2 separate regions of the Homo sapiens genome follow, and region 2 is linked to region 1. Evidence: fine-mapped expression QTL. A gene starts in region 1. The other region holds a variant in brackets. All regions are shown on one strand. Distances are between the middles of the regions. Region 1 holds the start of ATXN7L3-AS1 (ATXN7L3 antisense RNA 1). Region 2 overlaps SLC4A1 (solute carrier family 4 member 1 (Diego blood group)).

Region 1 (8,511 bases):
AGGTACAGGTTAGAGATGGGGCAGAGAAAAGAGAAGGACAGGGGTGGAAGTGAGAATCAGTCCCTCTGGTCCCTTTCTAAGTGAGGCTTTAGAACGACCCTGCCGTTTTCCAAGTGATTTCTCTCATCCCATCTGCCAATGGATAAGGGGTGGGACTCAGAAAGAACATAAATATGTAAGATCCAAATAGCTCATCAGTGCCTCTGGCTGTCAGCATTCTGATCCCTACTTGTCCAAATCCCCACCACCTCACAACCAGGACAATGAGAGCAAGCATGAGGGGCGGCCCATACTCACCTTAAAAGGATCCGAATTGCTAAGTTCCCCTGAAGAAGAAAAAAGAAGGGGAAGGGTGTTTGATGCAGAGGTACAGACAGAGAACCCTGAAAATAACCAGAGAGGAAGTGGGGGTGACAGAAGGATCACAGGCCCTCCCTCAATTCCCCTATCCCCGGGCCCCACCTCCACCCCCCGGCAATGAGTCCCAGAAGACACAGCTAGAAGCATTCCCATTGCTCCGGCTCCACTTACCATTTTTGTGTTTTAATGACTTGGATCTTCGAGGGGAATTGGGGTTCTGGAATGGGAGATACCATAGCTTTGGGGAAAGGGTAACGAAAAGGGGGAGCCGAGAACCCAGGGAAGGAAAAAAGATTTGACAAAGCAGCATCCTCAAATTCCTACTCTTCCTCCCCAGTAGGAGGCCTGTCTACCCATGTGCCCTCCCCCACCCCCCTTCCCCACCCACACTCCCCCGCCCCGGACCCACCAAAGACACCCTCAAGCCCCCAATGACCTCAGCCTTGAGTCATGACACTCGAGGACTCCCTGCCCAAAGGGGAGGGTATCTGTCCTTTACCCATTATTTCCCCAATGCCTGGCCCGGCTCTCACCTTGTCTGACTTTCTCTTCTTGGCTGTGGGAAACAAAAGCATAAAGAGCAGGGTTTCCGTTAAGTTCTCAATCTAAAAGCATCTCAAGAAAACCATACAACAGGCTGGGCACGGTGGCTCATGCCTGTAATCCCAGCACTTTGGGAGGCCCAGGCGGGCAGATCACGAGGTCAGAAGATCGAGACCATCCTGGCCAATATGGTGAAACCCCATCTCTACTAAAAATACAAAAATTAGCTGGGCATGGTAGCACGCGACTGTAATCCCAGCTACTCAGGAGGCTGACACAGGAGAATCGCTTGAACCCGGGAGACGGAGGTTGCAGTGAGCCGAGATCTCACCACTGCACCCCAGCCTGGGCCACAGAGCGAGAATCCATCTCAAAAAAAAAAAAAAAAAAAAAAGGAAAAGGAAATCGCGTAACTACACTCTCTCTTCATCATTCAAGGCAACAATTTGTGACCACTGTATACCCAATTCCTGCTTCCCACCTCATCCCAATGCCCCCCGGGTTTCCCCAGATCCCCAAGCACCTTTCTTCTCCGAGCCATAGGACCAGTCGTTGTCATTGATGTCATCATTATCTTCTTGGTCACTCTCAGACTTATTCATATTGTTGCTATTGGCAATCCTGCCAAGGGGAGGGAAGAGAAAGGGGCCAAGGGGAAGGAAGAGAAAGGGGTCAAGGTGGTCACCCCGCTCTGCCCCCAACTTCAGAAGCAGGTGGAGCATCTGGGGCCAAGTAAAACCCACCCTCTGTACCTTCCCAATGCCCCCGGGGGACTACACCATGGCACAGGCTGCAGAGAACGGGCAGCTCTGGTTCCCTCACCGGCGGTTGGCGATTCGGCTGCTGTTCCGACCCATTCCCAGGCACTTCTCCAGATGGGGAGCAAAGCGGGAGGCGGCAATGCTGCGACTGCAATTGGGGCAAACACACTCCTTGCTCTTCCACTGGTTGAAAACCTGTCCAAAGATGTCCAAGCCCGGCTGGTCCACGATCTCTGGGGACAGGAGAGGCTGGCGATCAGGGTGGGCAGGACCCTCTCCTCTTGTTCCCACCTGGGGTCCCACGGCCTCTTCAATCCCTCCCCCGGCTCACAGGAGCTCCAGGTGCTACATCTAGCACAGTTTCCAGAGAAGGAAACTCCAGGCAGTCCCAGGGAAGGGCTGGACTGCTGCTCCTTCACCCTGAAGCTCACCAAAATCCTTCATGCTATCAGGGTCCGTGTCGTCCAAGAAGAAGTAGCCACACTTGACAGCCCGGTGTACCTCAAAGCAGAATCCCAAACAAGAATCCTCGACCAGGTCCGCGTATATCTCCTGAGCGATGGCCTGGGCCCCAGGGGAGAACATCTACGGTCACAAGAGTCACAGCCCCCTGGACTCTCACCAACCAAATCTGCTGCCAACTGGCCCCAGCCAAAAATCATGCTTTCTTTGCCATTTTCCCCATCTTGACTTCGTGTTCTTTCTTCTTCCTGGATCCTTGGCTTTTTCAGCTGGCTATTCCCTTTAAGGAACAAGGCTGACTACCCAAATTCCTCTTTGGTGTGGATGCCAGATACAGCGACGTAGAGACATCAAGAGAAAGAACTGGAGGCACACGTGGGGGAGCCCTCACCTCTAGTTTGCTGTTATCCAGGCCAGACAAAGACATTTCCTCCATTTTCATTTGTAAACTCTTGTGGAGACGGCGCTCTGACTGCTCATAGCACAGCGGGCGGCAACACGGCTGCACACACGGGGGTGGGGGTGTTGTTGTGAGTCCAAGGCACCTCTGAATGCGGCCACCTTCCCTCCCCACCTCGCTGCCCAAAGCTCAGTCCTGGCATCAGGGTCTCTCCCTCCCCAAGGCCCAGGCTCCCTAAGTCTGGATGGTCCTTCAAGGCCTGAAACCTAAAGGGGGCCTAGTCTTTCCCAGGCCTGAGCTCAGGCCCTGGACTCCACTGCCAATCAGAGTCTGGGTCTATAGGAGGCAGCAGCTCACCCTAGGTCCCCAAAACTCAAACCCCTCTTTGATACCCATGGTGCAATGCAGCAGGGGGAGGAGAAGGAACTCCAAGGCCTCAAAGCAAACCCACAGGGTGTGGCAAAGAACTGCACAGACTCCTAAATACACCCCCCGCCTTCCCTAAAGACTCTCCTCAGAGTCACCTCTGCTTTCAGCCAGGATGTCCACTTGGGGGGGTACTGCTACCAGAAGTAGAAATGGCCCTAGGACCCTACAACCTTCACCCCACTCTGTCTTCCCTTGAAATCAGCCTGCCACTCCACGAGGGGAGCAGAGCCCACAGGAGCCTAGAGCTAAGGGACATTTCTAGCCACCATGAGCAGGAACGGCGGGGGGTGGGGGGGAAGAGCCTGGTAGGGTGGCACGCCAGGAGCGGGCACTCCCCTTACCTGTTCTTCCTTTAAATAACCACCCGCCCTCCCTCAGGACCAGCCCGGAAGTCTCTCCAAGAGCCCCAAAGTCCAGGAACCCCCACCCAAGGATTCAGACACAGAACCCACAACCCAGGGCCCCTCGGAACGGTGGGTACGAGTTTCAGGAGCTGCCGGCCTAGAGTGGGGTGGGGACTGACGAATGAGCCGGGGGCACTGGGAAGGGTAGGAGGCCGGGCCTCGGCTCTTCCCCCGTCCCTGCGGCACTGCTGCTGCATCATACCGACTGGGGGGAGGACAGCCGAGCCGCCGGGGCCGGCGCCGGGCCGGGACAGACCGACCCCCAGAGAGTGGGACGCGTCCCAGCCCCTCTCCTTCCCCGCCCGCCAGCAGCCCCGGCCGGCCGGGGAGAGGAGTCCGGGAGGGTGTCTCTATTGTCCCGGGGGCTGGGGCCTGGCTCCCTAACAAAGGCCCCGCGCCCCCTCCCCGGCCGGCCCTGCCCCGCCCAAGGGGGACCCAGACGGGGGAGAGCCAGGGGCCCCGGCCCGGCCGGGAAGCTGGGGGAAGCCGGGCGTTTCCGCGTCGGCCCGGGGGGAGGGGAAGGGGCGCTGACCCAGACCTGGGGGGAGGGGGCCCAAGCCCCGCCTTGGGCCCCGCCCCCCGCCCCCCACAGGCCCCTCCCCCGTCCCCGTCCCCGTCTCCGTCCCGTACTCACCCCGCCCGGGGGGCCGCGCCGGGGCCCGGCAGCCTCTCAGGGCCGCGTCCTCCGGCGGCGGCGACGGCGGCGGCTGCTCCGGAGCCCCATGTCCGTCGGTCCGTCCTCGCCTCTCCCCGGGGCCCAGGGCCCGGGGCCGGGGGGTCGGGCCGCCCCCCCGCCTGGCCGCCTCACCGGGCGGCCATGGCCCCTTCCCCTCCCTTCTTGTCCCGTCGCCGCCTCCTCCTCCTCACCTCACCCCGCCCGCGCGCAGTCCGCGCGCCGTCCGCGCGCCCCTCCCCCCGCCCCCCACTCCAGCCCGCCTCTCCCGGGCGGGGGGTGCGGCGCGAGCCCGGAGCGCGCGCGCGTGTGCCGCGACCGGAGGATGGATGGATGGAGCGAGCGTGAACGCGAGCGTGCGCGCGCGCGCCCCTCTCCCCCTCCCTCTGCGCGGGCGCGAGGCCAAGCGCGAGCGCGCTCCAACCTCCTCCTCTTCCTCCTCCCGCCCCTCCCCAACACCCCGCCCTCCCCCTCCCTTCCTCTTCCTTCTTTCGCTTTCGCGCGCCCAGCGACTGCTCGCGCCTGCTAGAAGGGCCCGAGCGCGTGCATCTGCCCCGCGGCCGCAGCTCGGCAGCATTTGCTCCAGGGGGCGGGGACCGGGAGGGGAGGAGGGGCGCCACGCCGCCGTCCAAAGTACCGGCGGACGGGGACGGGGGCGGAGAGATGGGCGGGGCCTTCGCGGACCTCCCCGACCAATCGCAGGGAGGCCTCGGCCCGGGAGGACCAATAAGATGGGGGTGGGTGGGGCGGCGTTCAAGGTGAGGTGCGCGGTGCGCTGGGGGCGGAGACGTTTTGCCGTCCCGGCCGGCTCGGGGGCGGGGGCAGCGGGTGGCGTCGAAAGAGAGCGCCGGCTGCCAGCCGAGCCTGGGACGCCTTCCGGCCCAGGCTCCCCCGCCCTTCCCTCGGGGCTCCCCGCTCTCTCCCCCGCCACCCTCCGCTCCCCCCTTTACCCCGAGGCGTGCAGCCACTTCTGTGAAGAGGCCAGACTTGAAGTGGGGCGCAGTTAGGACCTCGGGGCGGAAAGCCTGTGGAGCCTAAGGGGCTCGCCCGCGCCTCAGTTCTCCCGGTTTCTGGGCGGGTCTCAGCCCACTCCAGGCTTGCGGACCAACAAGCGGCCGAGATGAGGGTCCGCTGCTGAGGTCGGAGGCCGAGCTGCGCCCTTCTGCGCGGAGCGCCCTCCCCGCCCCTCGTCCTAATTTAGATCCCACACCTGCTCGCCTTTCCTGCTTCCGGAACCCACGCTGGACCCCCACCCCTCCAGACAGCCTCCTTGTCACTGGCCAGATCCTTCCCCCGACCCAGTGCTGTTCCCCTGGGTGCAGCGTGTCCCTGTGCTCACGCTCTCAGTCCCTCTTTACCTTAGGAAGGGACAGGCCTTTTCCCAGCCGCGGTGGATGGCTGGATTGGCGCTTTCATCTCGGTTACTCTGTGTGTGGTGTCCTGGAACGGTTGTGTGACAGCCCTCTCCCCTCAAGAGATAAGATTAAAAAGGAGGATAGTCTGTAATCACATACTTGGAGCCATCTTTGGTTTTTAGTTTTCAGCAAATACTTATTTTTTTCTCACCGATTTCTCCCGAGAAACAGCAAACATTTATTGAGGCGATATTCCAGAGTAGTTCAGATCAGGCGTCTGATTTGAATTTAAATCGTTGGGCCTAGCAAATGAGTTTCCTGTGCCTCAGTTTCCTCTGTTGTCAGTGGGCATAATGATAGTCCTATCTCCTTGCGTTGCTGTAGTGATTAACAAGTCAGTGCATGTGAAACTCTTAGCTCTGTGTAAGTGCTTGGTAAATCTTAGCTGTTATTCTCACGGTGCTCCAGGTGCTGGGATAAAAGATGATATAAGACAGTTGTGCTTCTTCAAGAAGTTCACTGTCTTGTGGATAGATAGGTAGGATAATAATTGCAAAACAGTGTGAGGAAAACAACAGAGAGAAAACAGAGGTAGACAAAAGGAGACATCAAATGATGTAAGAGAGTTGGTCAAGAAAGGCTTCTTGGGCAGGGTGCGGTGGCCCAGGCCTGTAATCCCAGCACTTTGGGAGGCCAGGAGTTCGAGACCAGCCTGCAAAAATGCAAAAATTAGCTGGGCGTGGTGGCGGGCTCCTGTAATCCCAGGAGCTACTCGGGAGGCTTAGGCAATAGTAGTAATCCAGCTACTCGGGAGGCTTGGGCAGGAGAATCGCTTGAACCCGGGAGGCGGAGGTTGCAGTGAGCTGAGATTGCGCCACTGCACTCCAGCCTGGGCAACTGAGCGAGACTCCGTCTCAAAACAAAACAAAAAAGAAGAAAAAGAAAAACTTCTTATAGAGGGAGATGAACCAGGTGAAGGTAGGCCAAGAAGGCATTGGACATCCCCAACTGGAAGCTTCAGAAGCATGGATCAAGCTGGAACAGAGGAGTGGGTGGCAGAGCAGCAGGAGGTGAGCAGGCTGGATAATACAGGACAAAGCAAAGTAGGTGTTGAAAAGTTTGTGGGCTTTAGCCTGTAAGCTGTGAGGAGTCCTCAAGGGGAATCATTCACCAGACTTATATTTTTAGTGGATCATGCTGGAGTATGGTCTGGAGAATAATTTAGAAGCAGTAGGTTTTTTGTTTTGTTTTGTTTTGTTTTTTTAGACAGCATTTTGCTCTGTCACTCAGGTGCAATCTCAGCTCACGGCAACTTCTGCGTCCCGGGTTCAAGTGATTCTCATGCCTCAGCCTCCTGAATAGCTGGGATTACTGGCGCACGCCACCACGCTCGGCTAATTTTAGTTTTGTATTTTTAGTACAGACAGGGTTGCACCATGTTGGCCAGGCTGGTCTCGAACTTCTGACCTCAGGAGATCCGCCTGCCTCAGCCTCCCAAATGCTGGGATTACAGGCATAAACCACTGGGCCTGGCAAAAGCAGTAGGTTTTTGTTACTGATTGAGGTGTGTGGAGGAAAGGAGAGGGAGGTCTTGAAAACACCTTTACTAGGATGGGGAACTCAGGGGAGGACATGGGAGGACACAGGATGACTTCAGTCTGGGATATATTGAGGTTACTGTGGGATCAGCTGATGGAGACCCAAAAGGTGGTTGAACTCAGGTCTGGCACAGAGAAGTAAGCTAGGTCTTCAGGAACTTCAACAACATCGCCTCAACCTTTGTTTTCTCTTATCTCCCGCCTCCTTTTCAGGAATTCTTCACTCCAGTGATGCTGATCTGTTTCTTACCTAAATATGCCCAGTACATTCTGCCCTAAGGAATTTGCGCCATGGCCAGAAAATCCTCCTGGCTTCTCCCTGTTTACCTAAATCCTTCCTCATATCCCCACCCATGGCCATCCTCATACCAAACTTCTTTACAACTAGACTGTACTATTCATTCTGTGCTTGGCCTGGGCTGCTCTGTGGTGGTGACCTCTTTGGGCACGTGCCCAGTCTCCACAGTTAGCACCAGTTCATAAACACTAAGGCCTGAGCTGGTCCTGACTCTGGGTGAGGCCCTGGGGTTACAGCAACAAGCAAGAGAGACACACAAACCTTGTCCTAGCGCAGCTTACAGCCTAGCAAGGCCTGATGTGAAGGAAATAAGGCCTGAGTGTGAAGGCATTCAGGCTGCTGAAGAAACGTATAGTGTGGAGACCTTTTTTCTCAGGAGTTCAGGGAAGGAAGTGGTCTTTTAAGTGGAGACCAGAATTAACTAGGCAGAGAGAACACCATGTGTATAGGCCCTAGGAGAGAGCATGTTATGTTCGAGACATGAATGGTCAGTGTGGCTAGAGTCGGGGGAGGGCTAACGGGGGCAGCAGATCCCCAAGGGCCTTGTGGGCCAGACCTATTCACCCACTCAGCAAATCTTTCTTGATTGTCAAATGTATATCAGGCAGTTTCAGGTGCTGAGATTACTGTAATGAACAAGCAGATAAGGTGTCTTCTACTTGGGGAGATAGATAATAAACAAATACATAAACAAGAAGATGGAGGAGGCCTCTCTAGAGCAGGTGGTTGGGAAAGGCTTCTCTGTGAGAGGACATGTGAGTTGAGGCTTAAAGAATGAAAAAAAAAAATCAGGTATGTGTAGAGTTGGAGGAATAGCCATTCTAGGCAGAGAGAACAGGTGCCAAGACCCCGCAGGTAGGCATGTTTGAGGAACAGAAGAGATCACTTGGTTGGATCGTTGTAAGTGGTTAGGAAGAGCAGGGTGAGAGAAGATAAGAGAAGGAATGCGGGGGCCAAGCCTTGTAGGGCCATGGTAAGACATGGTAAATTTTCAGTACAGAAATAATCAGATTTATTTCTGAGATAATTTTGGCTGCCATGTGAAGAATGGGCTGTAGGGGGCGAGAGTGGAAGCAGGAAGACCAGCTTTAGGAGGTCTTTGCAGAAGTTGAGCAATGATGGTGGCCTGAAATAGGATGGGAGTGGCAGCTGTGGGAGCCACCCTGTGGGAGGGGTCGACAGATTTGAGACAGCTTTAGGAAGTGGAATGGAGAGGTCTAGGTGATTG
Region 2 (8,000 bases), 58 kb after region 1:
GTCTCAAACTACTGACCTCGTGATCCCCCCGTCTTGGCTTCCCAAAGTGCTAGGATTACAGATGTGAGCCACCTCACCTGGCGCTTTTTTTTTTTTTTTTTTTTTGAGATGGAGTTTCACTCTCGTTGCCCAAGTTGGAGTGCAATGGCGAGATCTCGGCTCACTGCAACCTCCGCCTCCCGGGTTCAAGCGATTCTCCTGCCTCAGCCTCCCAAGTAGCTGAGATTACAGGCTCGTGCCACCATGCCCGCCTAATTTTTTGTATTTTTAGTAGAAACAGGGCTTCACCATGTTAGCCAAGCTGGTCTCGAACTCCTGACCTCAGGTGATCTGCCCGCCTCGGCCTCTCAAACTGTTGGGATTACGGGCGTGAGCCACCGCGCCCGGCCACGTTTTTTTTTTCTTAAAAAGAGCTCTCCAAATTATACAACTTCTGGTCCCACAAAACCTGGAACTGCCCCTGGCTTTTCACTATTCCTGCTAGTCGGGAGGGCCACACACCCGCAGGGACTAGCTTGCAGTCCTGGGTCTCTTGCCTGCCTGGGAGAATGCCAGGGAAAGGTCCCTGCCTCCCACCCTCCCAGGCCCAGCCCCCACCCTGTCTCTCACGTGGTGATCTGAGACTCCAGGAATATGAGGATGAAGACCAGCAGAGCAGGCAGGGCGGAGGCAAACATCATCCAGATGGGAAACTCGGAACGCAAGCCCAGTGGGTGGATGACCCAGCCCCGGGCTGAGGAGTTGGACACCTTGAAGCCATCAGGCACCGAGAGTTTCTGTGGGAGGGGGTAGCAGGTAAGAATGCCAAGGGCAGGAGGATGGGGAAGGGTGGGAGCAGGAGGAGCCAGGGTCCTAGGGGTCGGGCAGTTAGGTTGGAGGCACTTGGGAACTTACTTATATTGAGCACTTGCTCTGTACCTAATCATTACACTAATCCCTTTACATCCATCTGCTCGTTCCCCACTTTAAAGATGAGGAAAGAGAATCAGAGAGGTTATGTAGCTTGCCCCACATCACACAGCTATTTGATGGCAGAGCTGGGATTCATGCCTAGATCTGCCTGGCTCCAAAGAATACTTCTTCCTACTGCTCTGGGTTAAGGAATGAAGGTGGCAACCTGGCCCAGCACCTTGCTTTGGCCACAGGGGTCCTCTGGGGCTGTGAGAAGCACATGGGACTCCCAGAGGAGGCAGGGATGGGGTAGAGGTAGTCCCAGCTGGCTTCAGGTTGGGGAAAGCTATTCTAGGGAAGGGGCATGCTGGGGGGTGGAAATGAGGACCTGGGGGGTATCATGGTCTGAGGGCTGGGAGGAGGGGTCACCTGGGTGTAGGTATCCTGAATGAAGAAATCCACCAGGACCATGATCAGGATGGAGATGGGGACCCCGAAGTCCCCGATGACCCGACGCAGCTGGGGGCAGGTGAAAGGACCAGTGGTCAGTGCCCAGTCACTCCCCACCTCCTGCCTTCCTCCTGCCCTATATTCACCCACGGGGCCCTGCTCTTCCAGGGGATCCATCAGCATCTAATGCCCTGTCCTGCACCTCAGCTATGTCTGCCTCCTTTCTTCTTCCCCCAGCAGTTCTCAGGCTGGGCATGCCATGAAAGTGGGAGGGGCTTGCCCATAGAGTGAAACCCTAGGTAAGGATAGGGCCAGGGGAGGTTGGAATTGGGAATGGGAATCTGAAAAAGAAGGGAAGCTAAGGGCACTGAGGAATTTGGAGCGGGGGGGCTTTGGGCTGGGATAGGGCAGTGTTGGCAAGGACAGGCGAGGAGGGTATGCTGACCTTGCCAGGGAAATAGGAGCTGTTCTTGAACTTGCGCAGCATCATGGCAAAGAAGAAGGTACCGGCCATGAGCACAAGGGAGAGGAGGGCTGTGTTGGGCAGGGGGCCCTGAGGTTTGGGCACCATCAACACGTTGTAGTTATAAGTCTTCTGTAGTGGGTGGTCCTGGAAGATCTGCAGCAGAAAACCAAGGCATTCTGTTCTCTCCCAGCTTTGGCTTGGGCTGGAAAATACCACCAGCTAACTCTACCCAGCACTACTATCCATTCATCCAGTCATCTATTAATTCATCATCCATCCATTTATCCACCCATCCATCATTCATCTATCCATTATCCATTGATCATCCATTGATTATTCATCCATCCATTCATTATCCATCTACCCATCCATCCACCTACCTATCATCTATCAACCCATTTATCCATCCATTCATCCGTCCATCATCCACCCACTCATTCATCAATCATCCATCCATCCAACCATCCATCCATCCATCCATCCGTCCATCCATTATCCATCTATTCATCCATCCATCCATCTATCTTCTTCCTCAATTGACATGGAAACAGAGGATAAATGGGATTCTACAGCTTGGTTTTCAGGAATGAAGACAGCCTAGGTTTAGGCAGGGAGGGCCATGGAAGGCAATGGGTGTGTGTGCGAGCACACATGTACACCCAGGACCTGGGAGACATGAGAAGGCTGGAGGTCAGGAAACAAGGGTCAGGGAAGTTTCTAACAAGGGGTTAAAAGACCTGGACACAGAAAGACCCTCCATCCAACAGAATCAGGGGACAACACATAGGGCTCACCCTTCTCCCATATAAAATGCAGGTACAAAGGCAAGCAGAGCTTAAGATGATGGGAGCCAAGCCAAGGTGGCTGGGCACTCCATCCACAAGCCCTGCAGCTCTTGAGGACAAGCACAGGGGAGGGAGTGGGGGACTTCAGAGGCTCCAGAGTCCCCCCAGCTCTCACTGTGCATGTACTTTCACATGCTCAGTGTCATGCCCATACCTACCCATTGCTCACGTCATGTGTGGTCATGAACTGGACATGTGCACACAGAGGCACCCTCTCATGCCTCAGCAAGAGTGCTGGCCACAGGCAGCAGGTGCCAACACATATGTGGTCACAGTCAACACAGCTGCACAGTCCTGTGTGCAGATGTGTGACTACACAGACATAGACACATATGTTGACACAGACACATATGTTGTCACAGTCATGTGCACAGTCACATGGTTATGTACACAGGTGAAAGCAAAGACACACAAATGCTGCACAGACACATGTGCGAGGACACAATGGCTCAGTCTTTTTTTTTTTTTTTTGAGACGGATTCTTGCTCTGTTGCCCAGGCTGGAGTGTAGTGGCACAATCTCGGCTCACTGCAACCTCCACCTCCCGGGTTCAAGCAGTTCTCCTGCCTCAGCCTCCTGAGTAGCTGGGATTACAGATGCATGCCACCACATCTGGCTGATTTTTGTATTTTTAATAGAGATGGAGTTTCACAATGTTGGTCAGGCTGGTCTTGAACTCCTGATCTCGGGTGATCCACCTGCCTCGGCCTCCCAAAGTTCTGAGATTACAGGCCTGAGCCCTCGCACCCGGCCACTGTCTCAGTCTTATACACAACCTCCCGTGTGCATTAACATCCCCATAGGCCCCCACCTTGATCAGCTTGGAGAAAGTCTCATAGATGAAGATGAGGGAAATGAGGAAGGAGAAGATCTCCTGGGTATAGCGGGAGATGAAGCGGACCAGGAAGCTACCCTCGAAGGCCACCACCAACACCACCAGCAGGATGAGCCAGAAGCCGATCCACACGCGGCCCACGATGTACTCTAGACCGTTGGTCTCGCAGAACTGCAGGGTGGTCAGAAGAAGCCGGTCAGTCAAAGGGTCTTGGGGCAAGGCACCATGCATCAGGCAGGTGGTGCGGGGGACATGACAGGGTCAGTGGGGCAAGGACAGAACTACCGAGAAGAAGGCTTCCTCAAACACCAGCAGGGGTCCTGAGAAGCCGACCACAAGCAGGGGCTGAGCCCCCAGCAGGGCGAAGAGAATGCCCTGCACTGCAGTGGAGATCAGCAGCTCCGACACTCCCATCTGGTTCCGGGTCTTTTCTCCTGTGGGTAGAGGTCACAGTGGGATCAAGGTCAGGAGATCATTTCCAGGAGCCCATAGAGCAAGTCATGGTCAGGCTGATGCAGGGGTCTGGAGGGTCAGACAGAGTCAGAAGTTGGGGCTGAGACAGAGGCCAGAGGGTCAGAGGCAAGAGTTAGGGAGACAGGTATTGGCACTGACCCAGGAGGCCGCCGAAGGTGATGGCGGGTGACAGTGCAGCAAAGTAGATGAAGATGACGGCAGCCAGGACCTGGGGGCTGAATGCATCTGTGATGTCACTCAGGTAATAGGGGTAGCGGCGCCGGATATCACGCACCAGGCCCCCGAAGAGCTGGCCTGTCTGCTGCAGAGGGTCATCTGGGCCCCCATTTAAGTCTGTGGTGGAGGATAAGAGCATGGTCAGAGGGAGTAGCTGGAGGAGGTGAGGGGAAAGGGGACTGGAGGGTGTAGGGGAGATTGTCTGATGGGAATGGGGCGGCGAAGAAGTCTGGAAGATGTGGGCAAAGGGAGC[G/A]ATGAGAGGGGAACATGTGATGGGAGACAGAGGCTACGCTGAGGTGTCTGGGGGTCGGTGGGGGCTCAGAAAGCCTCAGCTGGGAAGGGCAGGTACCTAGGCCCTTGTAGAAGCTGGAGTCTGGCTTGGCAGGGCTGGACTGATAGCGCCTTCGAAGTAGCTCCCTCTGCACAGGCACCAGACTGAGCAGTGCCTGCTCGGAGGGGGCATCGGTGGGAGGCAGCACTAGGCTGCAGTCCAGGAAGCCCTCTAGGGAGTGCAGCAGCTCCCCTCGGCTCTGAGCCATGTAGGCATCTATGCGGAACACCTAGGGGCAGGAGACAGGGTCAGAGCTGCCCGGACCTGCGGAGGGAAAGGACCCAGGAGTCCACAGCCAGGGCCTCCAGGAACCAGAACCCCCTCAGGCAGCAGCTCCCATTGCCAGGAACTGCTTTTCCTGCCCGCTCCCACCCCTACTCTCCCCACTAAGAAAGAGCTCTGGGGAGACAGACGGGGGCCCTGGGTGGGGAAAGGAGAAGGAACTAAAGCTAACCTGGTGGGTTAAGCAGACTAGATGAAACTAGAGCTGACTAGGCCCGACCAAGCCTGACCTGACCAGGTGGAACCAGGTCATAGTGAGCTGGACTAGACTAAGCCAGGCCAAAGCCAACCAGACGAGACCAGGCCAGAGCAGGGCCAGACTGCACGCCCCGACTGCCCCCGCCAGGTAGGATAGCAGCAGCTGGATTAGGCTGAATGGGTCAAACCAGTGAACCTAAAGTAACCCAGGCCAGGTTGGAGAGCAGGCCTCAGCCACCATGCAGGTCCCAAGCTTCCCCAGCCCAGCCCTCTCCGGCCCTTCCTTACCCTCTCTGACATGAGGGTGGCAGCAGCCCGGCCAAGCTGGGTGTAATCGATGTGGGGGGCCTCAGGTCCCAGCAACACAAAGAGGAAGCGTATAGGCACCGGCAGCTCCACCGCCTCCAGCTCCGCTGCCTCCTGCAGCCTCACGAAGCCCAGCACCGGCTGCTCCAGGAAGTCGGCGCGGCCTGTTAGGGGATGAGAAGATCAGGCCAGGCCGAGGAGCCCAGGGTGGGTGTGCTGAAGAGATGGGGCTGCGGGGGTCCAGGCTGAGGGAAAGACAGGCTGAGCCAAGACACGAGGGGTGTGGAGGGCTGAGGGTAGAGATGCCTGTTCTTACCCACTAGCACCAACGTGGCCTCTGAATCCGGGGGAATCTTTTCCAGAATTCCAGATGGTGAGTGCCCTTCTGTGCCCCCATCTCCCTGTGGGAAGGAGGGTGGTGACGGGAGTCCTCGGGCCAGTCTGACCTGGGAGACCTGAGCATCCTCCCCTTCCCATTCTCGCTTCCCAACTCTCCTGGCACCCCCCGGGCACAGGAGTGCTTCTGGTCCCCTGCTTGTGGTCGGTTTTTCAGGACCCCTGCTGGCGTTTGAGAAAGCTCTCTCCTTGCCCCACCCTGACCCTGACCCTGACCCTGTAACTGACTCACCTGCTCACAGAAGAGCTGTGTCTCCAGTGAGGAGTGTTGGGGGAGCAGAGGCTGTGAAGGATCCCCAGAGCGTGTCAGGACTGCAGGCTTCACACCCCCCAGGGCCTCCAGCTCTCCAGCGTGGCTGCAGGACGTACAGGGGACATGGGCTGAGTAAGCTGTTCAGGCTGAGCTATCAGTGGTGGGAGGGATCAAGGGCGAACATCAAGGGACTGGGGTAGACATCAAGGGTAGACATCTGGGACTTCCCAGACCAGACCAGAGAGACCCTGGGATGGAAGGAGAATCAGAGCCTCCTCTCCAAGGACGTTGTAGATGTAAGTGGGTGGCCTCTGGAATGACGAGGCGGGATCAAGAGTGGCTACAGAAAAGGGCCTTGCAGGTCTGCCCTCCTGGGGACCAACAGCCCCCAACTCTGAGCATAGGACATGGCCACCCCTTTCAAGGTGTCAGAGATGGGAGCCATAGTGGAGGAAAGTGGGCCCCTGCCTGGTGAGGGTAGGGCCACCTGGATCCCGGGGGAGAACTTGGGGCAAGTGGGCTGGGGAAGTGGGCCCACTGGATATGGAATCCAGGCCCTGGCAGGCAGGGGCACCTGTGTTTAAGCAGCAGGGCCCGGAGCAGCTCCTCTCGGTCCTGAGGCCGGATCTGGTCTTCAAAGATAAACCTGTCTAGCAGTTGGTTGGCCACTCCAGCCAGGGAGGTCTCTTGCAGGTCTAGGAGGACAGTACCTGCAGGCAGTGGAGGAGTGAGCTGGTAGGCTGGGCCACAGCACCCCACAACAATCCTCATCTGCAGGGGGTCCAGAAGGGCCCAGGAGGCTCACCCTTGGTGAAGACTCTACGCAGCTCTAGGAGGCTCCAGAAGGTGAGGTGAGAGAGGTGCGGGCGGCCCCAGGCCCCATTCTCCCCCAGGTTCTCCTCCAGTTGCACCCAGCGCGCCGCCTCCATCCATCTCAGCTCCTGGTTCTTTTCGTCCATCACCAGCTCCTGCAGCTCCACATAGACCTGTGGCCCCATGCGCCTGAGTTAGTTCATCAGGCATAGTCCAGGGCATAGTGGGTGCTCAGCCACTCTCGAGAGAGGCTTGTGCTTGTGAGGCTTGGATCCCTGTGCTCAAGGGTCCGTAGATACGGCTCACACCACTCCCTTATCTCCCAACTTCCTGGCCAGGCCTTTACCCCATTGCAGAAGGCATTTGGAGAACCCTGACCCAAAGGGATGCTGGAGAGGCCACTGGGGAGGGAAAGGAGTGGGAAGCAGAGGCCTGGCGGGCCGAAGCTAAAGGGGACTTTGGAGTCATTGGGTCAGTCTCCAGCCTCTAAGATTGTTCGTGGATGTGCTTTAGCATGTCCCTGAGGCCAGGTGGTTGCTCCAAGGGCCATAGCTGAGGGCCACCCCAAATTTCTAACCACTTAGACAGTTCAGTGCCCAGTGGGGACCTGAGGGGCCTGGGCAGAGGAGAACAAGTCTTTAATTCTGTGCTTCCCCAGTGACGCCCGACAGCCCAGCCAGGGCCTGAGGGCCTGGGGACTCAGCCCTTGTCAATCAGGTTATCTCTGCCCAGGGTGCTCCTGGAAAGGGGCCCAGGCCTCCCCATCAGTGGGGCGTCCCTCCCACCTGTTTCCTGGGATCCTCACTCCTCTATCTGCTGCAGGGTCTCCCCCAGCCTGAAGCTGCCTCTATCCCCTTGCTCCTCTCTTCCCTGATCAAATGGTGGGTCCCAAAGGCAGCATGGGAAAGAACGGAGGAGGCTGGGGTCCTCACCTTGTGGGTACCCGGGTGTGATGTGGTGTGGTAGTCTGTGGCTGTTGCCTCGGTGTCGTGAGCTGAAAACCAGAGGTCGGTTAGTATTGACCTGACCGTCCCCCACCTGAGGCTCTTCACCATCCACTGTGAGCCTCAGAGACCCAGGCATGGGCAGATGCCCCTCCTTCCCAGTGCCCTGGGCTGGGTCTCTGGTGCCGCATCCCACACTGGCCACTCAGCAGAATGAGGCTCCCCACACTTGTGTGCTGGGCCTAGCCTTGGGCTCCCTATCTGAGCCTTGTCGAGGACACCCGGGATTCAGCCAGGGAG

The links.
Region 2: its variant is fine-mapped to the expression of ATXN7L3-AS1 in whole blood (INTERVAL, PIP 0.97).

The regions. Positions count from the first base shown.
Region 1 is chr17:44,195,503-44,204,013 of GRCh38, forward strand. ATXN7L3-AS1 (ATXN7L3 antisense RNA 1) reads left to right here and starts at 3,338. Exons shown (of 2, transcript NR_184071.1): 1 at 3,338-3,428. It overlaps ATXN7L3 (ataxin 7 like 3), which reads right to left and starts at 4,382. Exons shown (of 13, transcript NM_001382309.1): 1 at 3,994-4,382; 2 at 2,518-2,628; 3 at 2,096-2,228; 4 at 1,726-1,897; 5 at 1,427-1,524; 6 at 894-916; 7 at 532-577; 8 at 298-326. The coding sequence starts at 2,568. RefSeq lists enhancers at 1,353-2,276, 2,277-3,199, 2,759-3,053, 3,404-3,959, 4,685-5,223 and 1 more and silencers at 3,521-4,130, 4,231-5,030.
Region 2 is chr17:44,253,887-44,261,886 of GRCh38, forward strand. SLC4A1 (solute carrier family 4 member 1 (Diego blood group)) reads right to left here. Exons shown (of 20, transcript NM_000342.4): 4 at 7,689-7,750; 5 at 6,749-6,929; 6 at 6,518-6,653; 7 at 5,923-6,046; 8 at 5,611-5,695; 9 at 5,277-5,458; 10 at 4,527-4,737; 11 at 4,100-4,294; 12 at 3,773-3,921; 13 at 3,464-3,658; 14 at 1,787-1,960; 15 at 1,321-1,410; 16 at 610-776. Among named protein-coding and RNA genes, the nearest start is that of SLC4A1, 10 kb to the right of the region's middle. RefSeq lists an enhancer at 3,188-4,144. The variant G/A (reference allele first, on the strand shown) is at 4,431.